2 separate regions of the Homo sapiens genome follow, and region 2 is reported to be linked to region 1. Evidence: microRNA targets listed by miRTarBase, many of them from high-throughput screens and not tested one by one. Region 1 holds a microRNA gene; the other region holds the end of a gene's coding sequence.

What was found. The annotated mature microRNA hsa-miR-6820-5p reads UGCGGCAGAGCUGGGGUCA and lies in region 1 at 2,217-2,235, opposite strand. An mRNA with a match to its seed (bases 2 to 7 or 8) in the 3' UTR can be bound and repressed. Matches are read on the target gene's strand: a 7mer-m8 pairs with bases 2 to 8, a 7mer-A1 pairs with bases 2 to 7 and ends in A, and an 8mer does both.
Region 2: the mRNA of PIAS4 is a reported target of hsa-miR-6820-5p. Seed matches in the 3' UTR shown: 7mer-m8 at 1,860-1,866.

The regions. Positions count from the first base shown.
Region 1 is chr22:37,966,409-37,969,802 of GRCh38, reverse strand. It overlaps MIR6820 (microRNA 6820), which reads right to left and starts at 2,240; the gene lies at 2,179-2,240. It overlaps POLR2F (RNA polymerase II, I and III subunit F), which reads right to left. Exons shown (of 5, transcript NM_021974.5): 4 at 2,633-2,704; 5 at 491-2,178. The coding sequence ends at 2,088. RefSeq lists enhancers at 987-1,281, 1,664-2,164.
Region 2 is chr19:4,037,189-4,040,582 of GRCh38, reverse strand. It overlaps PIAS4 (protein inhibitor of activated STAT 4), which reads right to left. Exons shown (of 11, transcript NM_015897.4): 10 at 3,079-3,209; 11 at 1,197-2,967. The coding sequence ends at 2,708. Among named protein-coding and RNA genes, the nearest start is that of ZBTB7A, 28 kb to the left of the region's middle.

The sequences.
Region 1 (3,394 bases):
ATGCTAGTGCCCGATCTCCTCTTTATTATATAAGCACTTTTAAACATGGAGGGACCTATTCTAGAATTTTGTCATGGATCAATCAGTACTAACCTTATGTGTTTATAATCTTTACAACCCACCCTTTCCCCTTCATTGAAAGGCAGGACTTTTGTCCATTTGTGGTCTGTTCACTACTCCTGCTCGCCGTGGGATGAGGGATATGGAGCTGGCACAGTGGGGAGCAGGGGGCACATCCGGAAGATGACACTATCACCTCCAAGACCCCACATCTCATGAGAGTGAGTGGGAAATCACTGAGGATGTGGAAGGAGGGGAAATGACCCCAAGGAAGTCAGAAGACCTGGGTTGTGTGCATCCCTTAGACCAAAGGTTCCAAGTGTGCACAGGCCTCAGGAAGGCAGGAGCTCCACTTGTTAAAAAAGGGTCAGGTGTTTCTGGAAATGACTCAAGAGACTATGCCCAAACCCTAAGAAAACAGAACCAATAGTGGTGACCGGGACATTTTATTCAAGAGAAGTCAAAAGCCAGGCCCAGACAGCTGAATAGCAGGGGACTCCCCAAAAGAGGAGAATGGGAAGAGGAAGACAGGAGGAAAAACACCCCTTCTGTCCCATTTCCCTTGCACTCTATCCCCTAAGGGTTAACCCCCAATTCCCCTCCTCCCCAGCCCAAACCCCATCTCCCTTTAATCACATCTGATACTGAGCAGCCCAGCAGGGAACAAAGAGACCATTTAGAGAAATGGGGCCGAGAAAGTGACCCCCGCACTCTGGGGCGGCTGCCTGGATGCCAGCACAAAGGCGGCATTTCAGAGCTGAAATTTCAGCACCCAACTTGATTAAAGGATTCCACAGGCTTGGAGGAGGGTGGATGGGAGTGTGAAGTCCACTGCTCCCTGAATTAACCCTTCTCCAGGGCAGCGGACACCCCTCCCACCAATGCAGATCCTCACCATTCACTCCCCACATCCCATCCCAGGGCCAGGCTGCACCTAGGCCTGGAGGCCCTGCCTCCTGCAGAGGTTAGGGAAGCCCAGCTCCTCCTCTTTGAAGGGGAGCTGGCAGTGGAATGGAGGTTAAGGCTGGCATATTCAGGGAGCCAGTTTACCCTCTATCCCTGTTCATGTCAATATACACCCTCCCCCTGACCCCCTCTAGGAGGGAGGAGCCAGTGTGACTGGTCTTACCTCAGGTTGGGTAAGCAGGGTGGAGAAAGGAAGAGGACCCATTAGAACCTCAGGCAGAGGAAGGGGGAACTCCAGCTCTGACTTAATGTAACACCTGGAACCCAGGAGCACCACCACCCCAGCACCATGTCCCCAAGGCCTCAGGGGATCACCAGCCCCAAATAGGAGGGAAAGGATATCTTATAGAGGCTAGGAAGAAGGCATGGGTGTGGCACACCAAAGAGGTGGGCCACAGAGGACAGCGTGTGGGCAGAGTCCTGAGGAGGAGTGGGGACAGAGCCATGGGGGCAGGGGTAGGCAGGTGCTCGGTCCTTGCTCCAGCTGCTGACTTGCCCAGCAGGGCTCTGCCTGGGGAGGGTGGGAGATCAGCACACCCCCACGCTTCCTGCTGGGGCACTGCTCCTGAAAGGGGATCCGAGCCCACGATAAGAGGCTCGAAGCAGGTCCTTAGGAAACAATGGGTGGCTTGATGAGACCTGCTCTGTGATACTCCTGAGAAGGGAGAAGCCCCTGCAGCCAGTCCCCACTGGAAAGGAAATTGGGGGTTTCCGTGGCAACCAGCTCCCTGGGCACAAAGACTTGTCTGTCTGCTTGGAAGGCAGCTGAGGTGTCTCCCCTGCAGCAGCCTTTGCTCTGGGGAACAGGGAGATGGAGGGAAGGATGTGGGGGATCCAAAGGGGCTAAGGGCCCCTGGTGCTTCTTAAGGAGCTGACAGTCACAGGGCCACTGGAATAGGTGCATGCTCCACGCAGCATGGCGGTAACGGGGAAGCAACAGGTGGTGACATTGCAGATAAGCAGAGGGGAAGGGGGTTGGAAAGTTGAATATTTTATTATTTACACATATAAAGTGAGAATGAAAATTGGGCATGGGGCAAGGGCAGGAAGATGACTCCAGCTCAGTCGGTGATGATGAGCTCGTCCACCCCCCAGTCTTCATAGCTCCCATCTGGCAGGTAACGGCGAATGATGATGGGGATCTTTCGGGCCCTGTGGCAGGGGAGAAGTCACAAGTACATGAGGGCTGGTGACCCCAGCTCTGCCGCAGAAGGAACAGATTGTGTGCAAAACACAAGCAAAGAGAAGTCTTAGGAGCAGCCTCTTGGGGCTGATGAGTGTACTTTGTAAGAAAGCAATTACAAGAAAAAGAAAGTTTTTATATCAGACAAGAGGGGGAAGAATGACAGAATATTGGTAAGGCCTCCTGCAGCAGGAACAGGGAAATTCCAACAGCCAGAAGACGTCCATGTCTCATCAGTGCCCTCCCACTTTCCCTGCCTCCTCTTCTCTCTTCCTCCTACTTCCTGGTGAGCTGTTCCTAAGGATCTGTAGGAATAAGCATCAACTTCTCCAGCCAGGCAAGTGGGAGCAAAGGGTGCAACAGAGAGCCCAACAGATGCCTCCCAGAGATTTGGAGAAGTGAACCATGATTTGAGTGACTTACTTGAGTTCCTTCATGGCAATGAGCAGAGGATCTGTCTCCCCCTCCAGCTCCACCATCACAGGGGCACACATCCTGTAGGGATAGGGACAGGTGTTAGGGAGACTACAAACCCAGGGAGAAGGGCCCAACAGGCAGTGAGGGTGGAACGGCATCCTGGTCCCCACCTAGAAACGTCATCTTCTAGGTAGGCAGGCACAGTAGGGAGTGGTGTGTAGGGGCACTGCCAGAGATCTTCCCTGGCAGAGGCCTATCACAGACTCCGGAGTCCAGCGGCCACAGCAGAATGTCCTGGTGGAAAGGGAGACATGTGCAAAGGCACACCATTCTAACTGCTCCAACCCCAGAGCCTTGCCTCAGTGCCCAGTGCACCTCATTTCAATTTCTATTTTCTCTCTCTACTTTTTGGAGACAAGGTTTCACTCCCATTGCCCAGACTGGAGTGCAATGGGGAGATCGTGGCTCACTGCAACCTCCACCTCCCAGGCTCAAGCAATTCTCCTGCTTGGGACTACAGGCATACACCACCAGCTATGCTAATTTTTTTATTTTTTGTATAGATGGGTGAAATTAACATTTCGCCATGTTGCCCAGGCTGGTCTCGAACTCCTGGGCTCAAGCAATCCGCCTGCCTCAGCCTTCCAGATTGCTGGGATGAAAGGCATGAGCCACCATGCCCGGCATCATTTCCATTCTCTATAGACACAACACCTCAGTAGAGGCCCTGCCCTTCCTGCCCAGCCCTCCCCACCCTTCACCTGAGGC
Region 2 (3,394 bases), not on the chromosome of region 1:
CATCCTCAGAGTTCGTCTGGGCTGGGGGCCTGTGTTAGAGCCTCGCTCCTTTCCATGGCTGTCATTCTGCAGTGTGGATGGCCACACTGCACTGATTCACTCCCCGGCTGGACATGGGTCATTGCCACATTTGGCTGCTGTGCACGTCCGTGAGCACATTTGTGTGGACGGACGTGTTCACTTACCTTGGGGACACGTCTAGGGCTGGCATTGCAGGTCCCACGCTAACTCCACATTTAGCCTCAACTGTTTCCAAGGGGCTGCACCACGTTATCTTCCCCAGCCATGTGGACTGCAGCTTCCCTGACCCTCGCTGCTGTTTTTGATGCTAGCTGTCCTGGTGGGGGTGACAGGTATCTCACCGTGCATTTGACTCACATCCCTAACATCTCTTCATGTGCTCATTGGTTGTCTGTATATATATTTTTTTGAGACGGAGTCTCGCTCTGTCGCCCAGGCTGGAGTGCAGTGGCGTGATCTCAGCTCACTGCAACCTCCGCCTCCTGGGTTCAAGCAATTCTCCTGCCTCAGCCTCCCGAGTAGCTGGGACTACAGGCGCCCGCCACCACGCCCAGCTTTTTGTATTTTTAGTAGAGATGGGGTTTCACTGTGTTAGCCAGGATGGTCTCGATCTCCTGACCTCAGGTGATCCACCCGCCTCGGCCTCCCAAAGTGCTGGGATTACAAGCGTGAGCCACTGCACCCGGCCCTTTTTTTTCACCTTACAAAAGCAAAACATTTGTGTATCGTCTTGGCCACCCAGAGACATGGACGATCCTGGGACCTGAATTCCATGTACAGCCCAAGTCCCTTCTCCCATTCTCCCAGCGTGGTGGACACCAGGCCCAGGCAGTACAGTACACAGTAAAACTGGCCTCATTCAGGTCGGGCATGGTGGCTCATGCCTGTAATCCTAGCACTTTGGGAGGCTGAGGCAGGAGGATCACTTGAGGCCCAGAGTTCAAGACCAGCTTGGGCAACACAGCAAGACTCCCTGTCTCTATTAAAAATAAGTAAATAAATAAAAATCTGCCTCATTTGACCACGAGCAGCACCTTTTGAATTCTGAAGCTGAGGCAATAACCAAGAAAGAGAGATGTGGGTGAGGCTGAGTTTCTGTCCTTCCCCCAACTCCGCCCCCCGACTACAGGGTACACACTTAAGAGACACAGGGCACAGAAAAGCGGACGCCTGGATGGCTTCACCTCGACCTTTTTTATTTGCATTTTTTAAAAACAATTAAATTAGAATACAAATATTAGAAAACAGCGGCCTTCAGCTGCCCGTGCGGGCGGGAGGGGCCGAGCTGCGCAGCGGGCTGCGGGCTCTGCAGTGAGACTGAACTGCCCTCGGCCAGATGCACGTCCCTTTCTTTAGACCTGAAATGATATTGCTTCCTGACTAGGAGTTCTGTTTATACAAAGGAAAATTCTGGGCTGGGGAGGACAAAAGCAAAACAGACCGCAGGCAGCGGTGTTGGAGAACCAGGTGAGGCCGGTGCCCCGCCTGCGCCCCGGTCTCCTGCGGGGCAAGGGGGGTGCCCAGCTGTGGGCTCCTGAAGGCAGAGCCCTGGTAGCTCCCCCAGTTGTTGGACCCTGAGGCCAAGGGCATGGGTGGGGCCTGCGAGGGGCCGGGAACGCCTGGGGACAGGAAGGAGGCCCCTGGTCTGGTCCTGCTGGAAGAGTGAGGCTCCCGGGGGACAGGGTGCCGGGCCAGCCTCGTACCCGTCGGAAAACCAAGAGCAAAAAGGAGAGGAATCAACCCAAACCGAGAGCCGGGGTGGCCGGGGTCCCTGCTGCCCCTTGGGAAGCGACCGCAACCCATGCCCCAAGGACCGGGGTATGGTGGCGGCGGCGGCGGCGGCAGCTGTGGACATCTGTGGACATCTGTGCTGTTCCGTAGGGAAGTTAACCTGAATTGGAATTACCGAGGTAGCTGGCTAGAAAACTGAGACCCCCCCACGCCACACGGTGCCGCACCCTGGGCCCCCGCCTTCCCCGGGGGTTCCTGACCACACGCCGGGTCTTCAAAATACCAAATTATTGCACTTTCAAAAAATACAACACATCTGTGGCTAAACCCTCCCCAGCCGCCCACTGTACCCCCATCCTGCCCACCCATCCCCCCACCCTACTGCCCCTCCCCGCCCCAACCCACTCCATGGCTTCTCGGCTAAAACGCTCGCTGCTCGGCGCGTGAGGGTCTCTGGGCGAGGATGCATTTGCAGAGAAAAAGCAAAGGAAGAGACAAACGTCAAAGTGGTCGCCAGAGAGGGGCTGCGCCCCACCGCCCGCCGCCCGGGTCCCCGCGCACTGGCTGGAATGGTCGTGGGCAGAGGGCGGCGGGCGGCGGGGCATCCGGAGGGGAGGGCGCGGGGCGGCGTCCTGGTCCCTCCCGCCCACTACCCCTTCCCGGCTCGGACTCCAGCCGGGGAGGCGGCTGTGTGGGTGGCCGGCCTTGTTTTTAAGAGTTTGACTTTTTTGTTTCATTTTTCTTTTTTGTATCTTTTTTTGTCATTTTACTTTTTTTTTTAATCCCCCGATAGGAGAGTCCAGAGGTACAGGTGCCAGGAGCCAGGCAAAAGGGTGGAAAAACAAAACGAACGACAATAAAAAGAAAAAGAAAGGTCACTCCTCCCTCTGCGCCCGAGGCTGGCCCGTGCCCCTCTGCGTGGTGAGCACCAGGAAAGTCGAGTGTGCGGCCGGGGTCAGCAGGCCGGCACCAGGCCCTTCTGGAAGGGGCAGCGGCGCTTGGGCCGGGGCCCCTCTTCGTCCTCGTCTTCCTCCTCCTCTTCCTCCTCCTCCTCATCCTCCGAGGACGATGAGCTGTCCAGCGTGAGGTCCACCACATCGGCGCCCGGCTTCCCATTCTCCATGCTGCCCACCGGGCCGCCGCCACCCGTGCTGCCCAGGGCACCGCTCCCGTTGACGCTGGGGGCGGGCAGGAGCCCATTGGCGTCCGAGGGGCCTACGGGCAACAGGGACAGGGTGCAGGTACTTAGGATGCAACCACTGATAAATGGGGAAACTGAGGCGGCCCTGGCTGCGGACTGCGCGGCTGGTGGGGTGAGGCACTCACCCAGCACGAGGATGGCGCCCTGCGGGCTGCAGCTGCGCTCCTTTTCGGCGCGGATCGGGCACCACGAGCCGTCCACCAGGTACTCGATCTCGTCGGCGTCCTCACACTCGCTCAGGATCTTCGAGAGGAGCCTGGGGCGAGGCGGACAGCTGACGCCGGGGCTGGAGGTGCCCCACCCCCCCAACTCCCCAGCCCTCCATCCCTCCCGGATGCAGCCAGGCACTCCCCACTTCTCTCTGCAAGAGCAGCCTCACCACCCCGACCGCAGGGGTCCAGGGACCCCGCATTCCCTCCCCCGCCCTCAGGCCCCTGCAGG